Linked DNA regions of Homo sapiens: region 1 is reported to be linked to region 2. The links are microRNA targets in miRTarBase. Many come from high-throughput screens and were not tested one by one. Region 2 holds a microRNA gene; the other region holds the end of a gene's coding sequence.

Region 1 (5,385 bases), not on the chromosome of region 2:
GTGCCTAATCCTGTTCTTCAAAGTATATATTTATATTTTCTATGTTTAACAATTTAAGTCTATTCTTTGCTTCTAAATTTGGATTTCAGCAGTTTCATTTTGTGTGAGAACAGCATATATTTTAAACATAACAAGTAACCCTAGTTTCTTTTAAATGCTTATTTATTAAAAACTTCTCTTTAGAATCTTCTATTTATAATTCTTTGGAAAAAAAAAAAAAGGTTTTGGCCGGGTGCAGTGGCTCACGCCTGTAATCCCAGCACTTTGGGAGGCCAAGGCGGGTGGATCATGAGGTCAGGAGATCAAGACCATCCTGGCTAACACGGCGAAACCCCGTCTCTACTAAAAATACAAAAAATTAGCTGGGCGTGGTGGCGGGCGCCTGTAGTCCCAGCTACTCGGAAGGCTGAGGCAGGAGAACAGCGTGAACCCGGGATGCGGAGCTTGCAGTGAGCCGAGATCGCACCACTGCACTCCACCCCACCCTGGGCAACAGAGAGAGACTCCGTGAAAGTTTTCTGCTGCTTTTGTTATCTACATAAACAAAGATATCACCTGCAAATAATGAACTAATTTCCAGTTTTATTCATTACAAATATTAACTTTTTTTCTGGCATATTTTTCCTTTATGCACCATTTTATACATTCACACACACATAGGACAATAAAAATATATCTAATTATTTAATTTTGGTTGAATTTTCATTAAAACAAGTGTTAACTATGATTATTTGTTTTCTGTTTGAAGAGGGCTTTTATTGTTGTACTCAAGAGCGTTGTTTCTGGAGACAAAGCTGCCTGTACTTTAATAGACAGATTCTGAAAAAAATTTGAAACATAAGCCATAAAATTTTATATTAATAAATTCAAGACAAAGCAGAAAGCATAGATTTGCTTTCAGCATTCTCAAGGAGCTTAGTTTTTTATTAGCCACCTTATTAAAATAATTTGTTTTGTTCCAATAATTGTTCTTTTCTTCTGAAAATATGTACAATCTCATGCTCACACAAACACACTCCATAAGTTTCTTACATCTAAGGTTTATCTTCAGAGTAATATGTGTATATTTAACTGATGTAAATTAACACTGAAAGTCTACATTTGCAGGCAAAGACCACATGTTCAAAGAAAACCATATAACAAACATTTATTAATAAGTTTTCAGTATATGTATGATTTCTATTTCTTTTTTTCTTGAGATTGAGTCTGTTGCCCAGGCTGGAGTGAAGTGGTGCAATCTCAGCTCAGTGCAACCTCCAGCTCCCAGTTACAAGTGAATCTCCTGCCTCAGCCTCCAAACATGCACCACAATGCCCAACTATATTTTGTATTTTTAGTAGACGAGGTTTCACCACGTTGGCCAGGCCAGTCTTGAACTCCTGACCTCAGGCAATCCACCTGCCTTGTCCTCCCAAAGTATTGGGATTACAGGCATGAGCCACTGGGCCTGGCTGTATTTTATTTATATTTCTGTATAATTTTTATTATGATCATAAAAATAACCCTGTAGTCAATAACAATTTATTGTACATTTTAAAATAACTAAAAGTATATAATTACACTGTTTTTAATACAAAGGATAAATGCTAGAGGTGATAGATACCTTATTTACCCTAATGTAGTTACTACATATTATAGGCCTGAATCAAAATATGCCATATAAAGCATAAATATATACATATACTATATACTCACAAATACTAATAATAAATTTCAGTAAGAAAAGAGAATAAAAATTTAACCTATGGGAACAATATTCTTAAATTCATTTGCTGTTTAAAGCCACTGGCAAAGTGATTACTAGAGACATTATTCCATTATGTACCAAATAGTATATTGCTACCATCTTTTACCTACACCTTTGAGTAAGGTGGGATAGGTTAGTGGCATAATAATGCTTCATTAAATGCACAATAGTCTTAACATGGTAAAAAACATAAAATTAAATTCACACATAATCTAACAATTTTTAAATGCACTGCATTTTATTACATAAAAGTACAATAAGTAAAATATACGAATTTAGTTTAATATACTTTTATCAATAATTATTTCTTGCACTATAATGTAGAAAAGTATTACTCTGACCTACCTTATACATTACTTCATATAGGTTAACTACAAAGAGCCTCTCCACTTATATTTTCATCATGCATCTTACATTTTAATGTCCTTACTTTTATAGAAAAGGTCATAAATGCCCAATTAATAAAAAACTATCTCTAATATCTCTGATGCAGCAAAAATTGATCACATGCTTTCACATGTGAATACAATAAGAATAAAATAACAGCATAAAGTAATTTGAAAGCTGTATTATGTCATTACCCACTTTTCAGAAAAATTTTTTTAAGGAAACAAATACACTTTTTTTTTTGAGATGGAGTCTTGCTCTGTTGCCCAGGCTGGACAATGGTGCAACCTCGGCTCACTGCAACCTCCACCTCCCAGGTTCAAGCAATTCCAATTCTCTGCCTCAGCCTCCCAAGCAGCTGGGATTATACGCGCCGGCCACCATGCATGGCTAATTTTTGTATTTTTAGTACAGACAGGGTTTCACCATCTTGGCCAAGATGGTCTTGAACTCCTGACCTCGTGATCCACCTGCCTTGGCCTCCCAAAGTGTTGGGATTACAGGCATGAGCCACCACACGCAGCTGGAACAAGTATACTTTTAATGTAATTACAATGCTTCCAAAAATCTGCTTTTAAAGTTATACACAAATAAATTTTTTTTTTTCCTGGAGACAGAGTTTCACTCTTATTGCCCAGGCTGGAGTGCAATGATCTCGACTCACCACAACCTCTGCCTCCAGGGTTCAAGCCTCCTGAGTAGCTGGGATTACAGGCATGTGCCACCATGCATGGCTAATTTTATATTTTCAGTAGAGACTGGGTTTCTCCGTTTTGGTCAGTCTGATCTCAAACTCCCGACATCAGGTGATCCTCCCACCTTGGCCTCCCAAAGTGCTGGGATTACAGGCATGAGCCACTGTGCCCAGCCACAAATAATTTATCTAAGAAGTGTTTCCAAACTCATTACATTTGCAGGAATCTTCTTCAATATACATTCCCTGATGTTGCACAAAGTTTGGCAACCGCTTTAGGGTTTCCTTCTAATACAAAACGCGGGCAATAAGATCTGTAATACAAGCAAAGGTACTACAAACCTCTTTATATTTGTAATGCTTGTCTTCAGAATCAATACTCTTCTTCACCTTAAAGGCTTATATTTTCTGAAAGATTTTTGTCACAGTAATTGCTCTTTTATGAACCTTCTTCTGTTGAGTAAGATGTGATGGACATTAATGGCTTTTCCATATTCTTTATATTTGTACAATTTTTCTCAAGGATAATAGCTTTCCTGTGAAATACGGTGTAAGCACTGATTAAAAGTTTTGCCACATTCTTCATACTTGTAGGTATTTTGGAAGTATGAATTACCTACAATAAAGTGTGGCAACCATATAAAGGCTTTGTCACATTTCATACATTTCTATGGTGTAGTATAATTTTTTTTATGCATAGAAAAGTTGGAGGTGTTGGGAAAAGCACTGTCACATCTTTCAGGTTTGTAAAGTTCCTCTTCACCATGAATTATCGCCATGTCTCTTAAGAATTAAGAGCTTATGGCTGGGAATTGAGGCTCATGCCTGTCATCCCAGCACTTTAGGAAGCCGAGGCGAGTGGATCACCTGAGGTCAGGAGTTTGAGACCAGCCTGGCAAATATGGCAAAAGCCCATCTCTACTAAAAATACAAAAATTAGCTGGGAATGGTGGTGGCACCTGTAATCCCAGCTACTTGGGAGGCTGAGGCAGGAGAATGGCTTGAACCCAGGAGGCAGAGGTCACAGTAAGCCAAGATCATGCCATTGCACTACAGCCCGGGTCACAAGAGTGAAACTGCATCTCAAAAAATAAATAAACAAATAAAAATAAAAGAATTGAGAACTTGTTACAGGCTTGCCACATTCTTCACACTTGTAGGGTTTCTGTCCAGTATGAATTATGTGTAATAAGGGTTGAGAACTTCCTTAAAAAGCTTTGTCAGCCAGGCACAGTGGCTCATGCCTGTAACCCCAACACTTTGGGAGGCCAAAGCAGGCAGACCACCTGAGGTTAGGAGATTGAGACCAGCCTGACCAACATGGAGAAACCCCATCTCTACTAAAAATACAAAATTAGCCAGGTGTGGTGGTGCAGCCCTGTAATCCTAGCTACTAAGGAGAGTTACTTGAACCCAGAAGGTGGAGGTTGTGGTGAGCCAAAATTATGCCATTGCACTCCAGCCTGGGAAACAACAGCAGAATTACCTCTCAAAAAAATAATAATAATAAAATAATCCTTTGTCACGTTCTTGGTTTCTGTCCAATATGAATTCTCTTATGTTTATTAAGGTCTGAGGACCAGTTAAAAGCTTTGCCACATTCTTTACATTTGTAAGGTTTCTCTCCAGTATGAGTTGTCTTATGTTCAGTTAGATTTGAGGATGTAGTATACGCTTTGCCACATTCTTCACATTTGTAGGGTTTCTCTCCAGTATGAGTTCTCCTATGTTTATGGAGGCCTGCAGACCATGTAAAGGCTTTGCCACATTCTTCACATTTGTATGGTTTCTCTCCAGTATGAATTATCTTATGCATAGTAAGGTGTGAGGAGCGGGTGAAGGCTTTGCCACATTCTTCACATTTGTAGGGTTTCTCTCCCGTATGAATCTTCTCATGTTTACTAAGGATCGAGGATGAAATAAAGGCTTTGCCACATTTATCACACGTGTACGGTTTCTCTCCAGTATGAATTTTCTTATGTGAAGAAAGAGTTGCAGGATGGTTAAAAGCTTTGTCACATTCTTTACATTTGTAGGGTTGCTCTCCAGTATGGATTATCTTATGTGTAGTAAGGGTATAGGGGTACATAAAGGCTTTGCCACATTCTTCACAAATGTAGGGTTTCTCTCCACTATGAATTTTCTTATGTGTAGTAAAGCTAGAGAAGTACTTAAAGACTTTGCCACATTCTTCACATTTGTAGGGTTTCTCTCTAGTATGAGTTATCTTATGTGTAGTAAGGTGTGAGGACCGGTTGAAGGCTTTGCCACATTCTTCACATTTGTATGGTTTCTCTCCAGTATCAATTTTTTTATGTGTAGTATGGGTTGAGGACTGGTTAAAAGCTTTGTCACCTTCTATATATTTCAAAGGTTTTTTTTCAGTATGTCTTCTTTTATGTCTCTTTGAATTTGAAAATTGATGAAAGACTTTCACATATTTACCACATTGAAATATTTTGCTCTGGGTAGTTGTCAAACATTGGTTAAGTCCATTATAACCTCTTTTGTGTAACTTACACTCATCCACACTTTCACAGCCTTTTTTAAAGTGTAA
Region 2 (5,385 bases):
TCTTTCTTGATGGGGTGTGGCTGTAACCAGACACCAGCTGGCCGTGCCCATGCAAGCATTACCTGGTCACTGAAGGGCAGCGTGCAGTTCATGTCTAGACGGTCATCACCTTCCAGTTTCAGCAGGGAGTTTCCAAGCAGTTTCTTTTCATAGGTGAAAGAAAAGAAAAACAGAAGACATCGTGAGGCTGATCTGTTTATGACCAAACCATCCAGAGAAACCAAGAGAAGGTTAAGGCCAAGTTATTCCTGGAAATGCTCAGAAACGCACATATGCTCTTAGCTCAGCCCGTATTTTGATCTGAGCTCCAAATGCAAAATGCGAGTGCTATTGGTATCTCTGGGGCAGCTGTTAATTAGCATCTGAGTTATAATTTGGCTGGGATGCAGAAATAAGGGAGGGTAGTAGACATGGAAAGCTATTCTGTAATAAGAAATAAGCTGAAGCTAAGGAGATTTCACCTGCGCAGGGTTAATAAGACACATGAAAGACTCCTTCCCCCATAAGGCTGCAGCAGAAGTGCAAAGGCGCCGTGTTAGCAGCGAGCCAGCACGCCTCTGCATCTCTTTACCTGAACCCAGGCAGGCAGAAGCTCGTAAGAAACACAGTCGCGGGCCTATTGTACACATATTAACAAGGATTTCAGTAAAAGCTCACGTGTGAAACGACCAACAAGTCATCCAAACAGGTCTAACCACTGAGTAAAGCCCTTTTCAGGAGGCTTGTGGTTAAGAATCTGCCAATTGCTAACACATAAAGTGTTTATTAGGAGTGAAGAGTCTGAAAAGAGCTGTTTGGTCTTCGCTGGAGCAAACGTCAATGAGCAATGAGCACTGTTTGTATCCTGGAACATTTTAGGTGGGGTGATGCCAATCACAGCACACCTACGTTTCTAACAGCTTAAGGATAAGTAGGACTCCAAACCTGCCTACGGAAGAGCAAATACTGCAAAAACAACTGAGATGCTTATGAAAAGCCTTCCTGGAGGGGACACAGCTGCCGGCAGCCTATTGTGCTGCTTCGTGGCCAAAGTGCTTCTAACTCAAGCCTTCAAACCAGACAAACTCATTTGAGTAAACAGGAGAGAGGATTTCCTTATAAGTACATTTGCTGCTGCATCACCACAACCAAGGTCTACAATGCCACCAGAGTAGGCTACTGATGCCGATTCCCCCATTCTTTTTCCTTTGCTTTTACAGTCCATGCCTCGCTCTGTTGCCCAGGCTGGAGTACAGTGGCACAATCGTAGCTCACTGCAGCCTCAAACTCCTGGGCAATCCGCCGGCCTCAGCCTCCCTACTAGCTGGAACTACAGGTGCATGTCACCACACCTGGCTAACTTTCTTTCTTTCTCTTTTTTTAAGAGATGGGATCTTGCTATCTTGCCCAGTCTGGTTTCAAACTCCTGGGCTCAAGTGATCCTCCTGCCTTGGCCTCCTGGGTCACTGGGACCACAGGCATGAGCCACCGCATCCCTGATTCCCACATTCTAAATGGATCATGATGCCACACAAGCTACCTTGGTGCTTGTGCCTTCATCACCACCAGACTCCTGGCCATGACACAGTCTAGAGCCATCAGCCCTCAGAGAGAGAGCCTGAGGGGAATCAAAATGGCCAATGGGATTCTCGTCGTTAACACCAGTTACCAAGTCAGCCCCCTTTACAAAGACAACCTCCAGGGCCCGCTTTCATACTCACAGCATCAGCTTCTGCTTTTTCCCTAGAAACTCTCCCACCTGCGACAACTGATTCTAAGGCGGTGACCCAGCGCTGTTTGTCAGGGAAGCTGGGAGCTAGCAAGTAGAGGGTTCTCCCGGGCCAGCAGGTGGTGTGCGGGTGAGATTCCATCTTCAGTATGTATGGGACATCTAGGAGATTTCAGAGAGCACAGGATTGGGTGTGGATTTCCCCCGTTCCCACTGGGAGGGACGGGCCTGAGAGATCAAAGATGCCCACCAAACCACGCAAATCCCAGTTACCGCCAAGGCGGGGAGCGGAGGAAGATGGGCCTCCTTTGCAGAGCCAATCTTCCCTGTACCACCCCTTCTGTCCCTGCTGATTGGCCAAGCCCGGCCCACCTCCAGGGCGGGGCTCCTCCGGCTCCTCCTCACCTGCTTTGGCTGTATTTGCGAGTTCGGAAGCACCAACGGCACCATGAATAGATACATCCCCGTCGGGAAGGCACAGCTCAAATTCTTCCACCGGCCTCTGTCCAGCTTGGTGCAAAGAGGAAGGGCAGAAAGAAAAACAAAAGAACAGGAACAAGAACAAGGGGAGAAGAGAGAGCGAGAGAGACAGCAAGGGAGAGAGAGACAGGGTACGTGTGTAAAGAGAGGCGCACGAGAACAAGGAAGGGACAGAGGTGTGCAGAGAAGGCAGAGAGGGAAGATAAAAAAAAATAAAGTGTGTCAGATGAGTAGCACAGTCAAATTTCTGATGACGATGCGGATTTATGGGTTAGTTGACTGAGGCAGAAGTTCTCGGAAGGTGTATTAGCAGGTGGAATCTTCAGGGCAGCGCCCTGCGGGTTCTTCAGGGGGGAGACCTATAGATGTGAGTATCGCACCAATAACCTTTAGAGAAGTCATTTGGTTTGTAAGTTTCAAAAATGGAAAAGCGTAGAAGGCTTGCAAGGCAGTCCAAAAAACAAAGCCTTCGCGCCAGCACTGGGGAGACCTGGGTTAGCCACGTGCAATGACCTTCCCCCTGAATTATTAATTTACCTTCTCTGGCTTCATTGTCATAAATGAGGACTTTTGATCCCTCCAGGACAATGTACTTCCTGTCCCAGCCTTGCTGTCCTCGTTTGTTATTCCTGGGGAAAGAAAGATGGAAAAGAAAAATGTCTGAACTCAGAAGAAACATCCGGCTGGAGGATAGGATGAGGGGGTGGCAGAGTTCCTAGAAAAGACACTTCCCTAGAAAACATCAGGGACAGAGTGGCTTGTGCCAGCACCTGCTCCAGCCCAAGCCACCCTGACATGGTACCTGGGCACCTTCATCCACCCTTCCAGGTGCAAGCTGCTGCTGGGCTCCTTGGTCTGGAGACCTGGGGAGTTCATTTTGTCACGGCAGAAGGCCTCGGTGAAGTGTGTGGCATATTCAGCAGGCAAGCCGCAGGTGGCTGGCAAGCACGTGGAGCACTTGGGGTGACACATCACCTGACATTCTAGGGAAGAACAGTGAGCAACCTGAGGGCATGCTCAGCTGACCCTGGACCCTTCCCTTCCTCTGCCAGCCAACGCCTGGGCTTCTCTACCCCAGCCGGGCCCAGAGAGTCTGGCCCTGGCTTGCAGGTAGTCTCCTGAGCTTCCCCTGGTGCCAGGCCCCTGCAGAAAGGGAAAACAAAAGTGCCAAGTGCTCTTGACCCAGTTTTCCAGGCTTCAATCCAGACCGCCCACAAACAGGTGTGTAAAGAACACGTTTGCATGTTTCAGTTGGAGTCAGCGGAAAGGTAGGGAGAGACCAGCCTGACAAAAAGGGGCTGGAAATTAGCAAAGCCTAAGGCACTCTGAGCAGCAGGCTGGAGTCATGAGCTGCAGACATATATAAACTCACAGCTTCAACAGGGGAAAAATAGCATCCTCCTACTGAAGTAAGAAGCTCGAAAATGAATGCACTATATGATGAGTTAGAAAAAAATCACCTCCACCTGATAGACTTTTTAAGCTGGAGATGCACAGGTGCCCAGCACAGATGCACAACTACTGATCTTACCGAGACATTTGGATGCCTGGCGTCCAAAGTGCACGGTATCCAGACACACAGCACACTTTGTGGCTCGCATGTTCAGTCCTACGTTGAATCGGTGAGGAATATTGTGGTGCATGCGTTCCTTAAGACGCCGACTAAATTCTGGAGGAAAATGTTTTAAAAAATCATTAGAGTACTGCAAATGATCCCATCAGGAAAGTGAAAAGACAACCCACAGAAAGGGAAAAAATACTTGCAAATCAAATCTCTGATAAGGGACTCATATCTAGAATACATAAAGAACTCTTACAACTCAATAATAAAAGGACAACCCAATTTTAAAATGGGCCAAGAATTTAAATAGACACCTCCCCGAAGAGGATAAATGGCCAACGAGCAAATGAAAAGATGCTCAACATTATCAGTCGTTAGAGAGATGTGAATCAAAACCCCAAGCAGACACCACTTCACAACCACTAGGATGTCTACAGTCTAAAAAAAGGAAGATAAGTGTTGATGAGGATGTGGAGAAACTGGAACCCTCACACATTCCTGGTGAGAATGTAAAAATGGTGCAGCCACTTTGGAACTCAGTCTGGTAGTTCTGTAAAAGGTTAAACATAGTTACCCCAGAACCCAGCAATTCCGCTCCTGGCTATATATCCAAGGGGACTGAAAACATATGTACCCACAAAAATCTGTACATAAATGTTCACAGCAGCATAATTTATGACAACTACAAAGTGAAAACAACACAAATGTCCACCAATGGTGATATGGTTTGGCTGTGTCCCCACCCAAATCTCATCTTGAATTGCAGCTGCCATAATTCCCATGTGTTGGGAGGGACTTGGTGGGAGATAACTGAATCATGCGGGTGGTTTCCCCCATACTGTTCTTGTGGTAGTGAATAAGATCTGATAGTTTTATAAGGGGAAACCCCTCTCGCTTGGTTCTTATTCTCTTTTGTCACCGCCACATGAGACATGCCTTTTGCCTTCCACCATGATTGTGAGGCCTCCCCAGCCACATGGAACTGTGAGTCTATTACACCTCTTTTTCTTTATAAATTACCCAGTCTTGGGCATGTCTTTATCAGCAGTGTGAAAATGGACTAATGAAAATGGATTAATGGATAATCAGATGTGCCATCTACACAATGGAGTATTATTCAGCCATGAAAGGAATGAAGTTCTGATACATGCTACAACATGGGTGAACCTTGAAAACATTACATTCCATGAAAGAAGCCAGACACAAAGGCCGCATGCAGTATGATTCATCTTTATGAAATGTCTAAGAGAGCAGATCGACAGAGACAGAAAGTAGATTGGTGGTTGCTAAGAAGAACATTAGTGGAAGGAGAATGGCGGGGGACTGATAATGTGTATGGAGTATTTTTTGGGTGGGGGGGTGTCAAAATTGTTCAAAAATTAGAATGTGATGAGGGTTACACAACCCTGTAAACTTACTGAAAAAGACTGAATTGTACATTTTTAATGAGCGAACTGTACGGTATGCAAATTACATCTGAATGAAACTGTTAAAACCATTAGAACAGGTTAGTTACAGATTTTGAAAGTATTAACACTAACAGATGCATCTAGATTTATAAGACTCAACTTAAAATCTCCATTATCCAGTGATTAGGAATCAGGCTTTAAGAACATGTTACTGGTAGGAGATTGAC

What was found. The annotated mature microRNA hsa-miR-1178-3p reads UUGCUCACUGUUCUUCCCUAG and lies in region 2 at 3,172-3,192, opposite strand. An mRNA with a match to its seed (bases 2 to 7 or 8) in the 3' UTR can be bound and repressed. Matches are read on the target gene's strand: a 7mer-m8 pairs with bases 2 to 8, a 7mer-A1 pairs with bases 2 to 7 and ends in A, and an 8mer does both.
Region 1: miRTarBase lists ZNF486 as a target of hsa-miR-1178-3p. The part of its 3' UTR that is shown has no 7-base or 8-base seed match.

What each region holds. Positions count from the first base shown.
Region 1 is chr19:20,197,068-20,202,452 of GRCh38, reverse strand. It overlaps ZNF486 (zinc finger protein 486), which reads right to left. Exons shown (of 4, transcript NM_052852.4): 4 at 1,965-5,385. The coding sequence ends at 4,351. The region is part of intron 5 of LOC105372310 (a long non-coding RNA gene); the gene reads left to right. It also overlaps the pseudogene LOC100419841. Among named protein-coding and RNA genes, the nearest start is that of ZNF486, 33 kb to the right of the region's middle.
Region 2 is chr12:119,710,478-119,715,862 of GRCh38, forward strand. It overlaps MIR1178 (microRNA 1178), which reads right to left and starts at 3,247; the gene lies at 3,157-3,247. CIT (citron rho-interacting serine/threonine kinase) reads right to left here. Exons shown (of 48, transcript NM_001206999.2): 33 at 3,720-3,857; 34 at 2,991-3,171; 35 at 2,726-2,817; 36 at 2,114-2,218; 37 at 1,701-1,870; 38 at 63-143.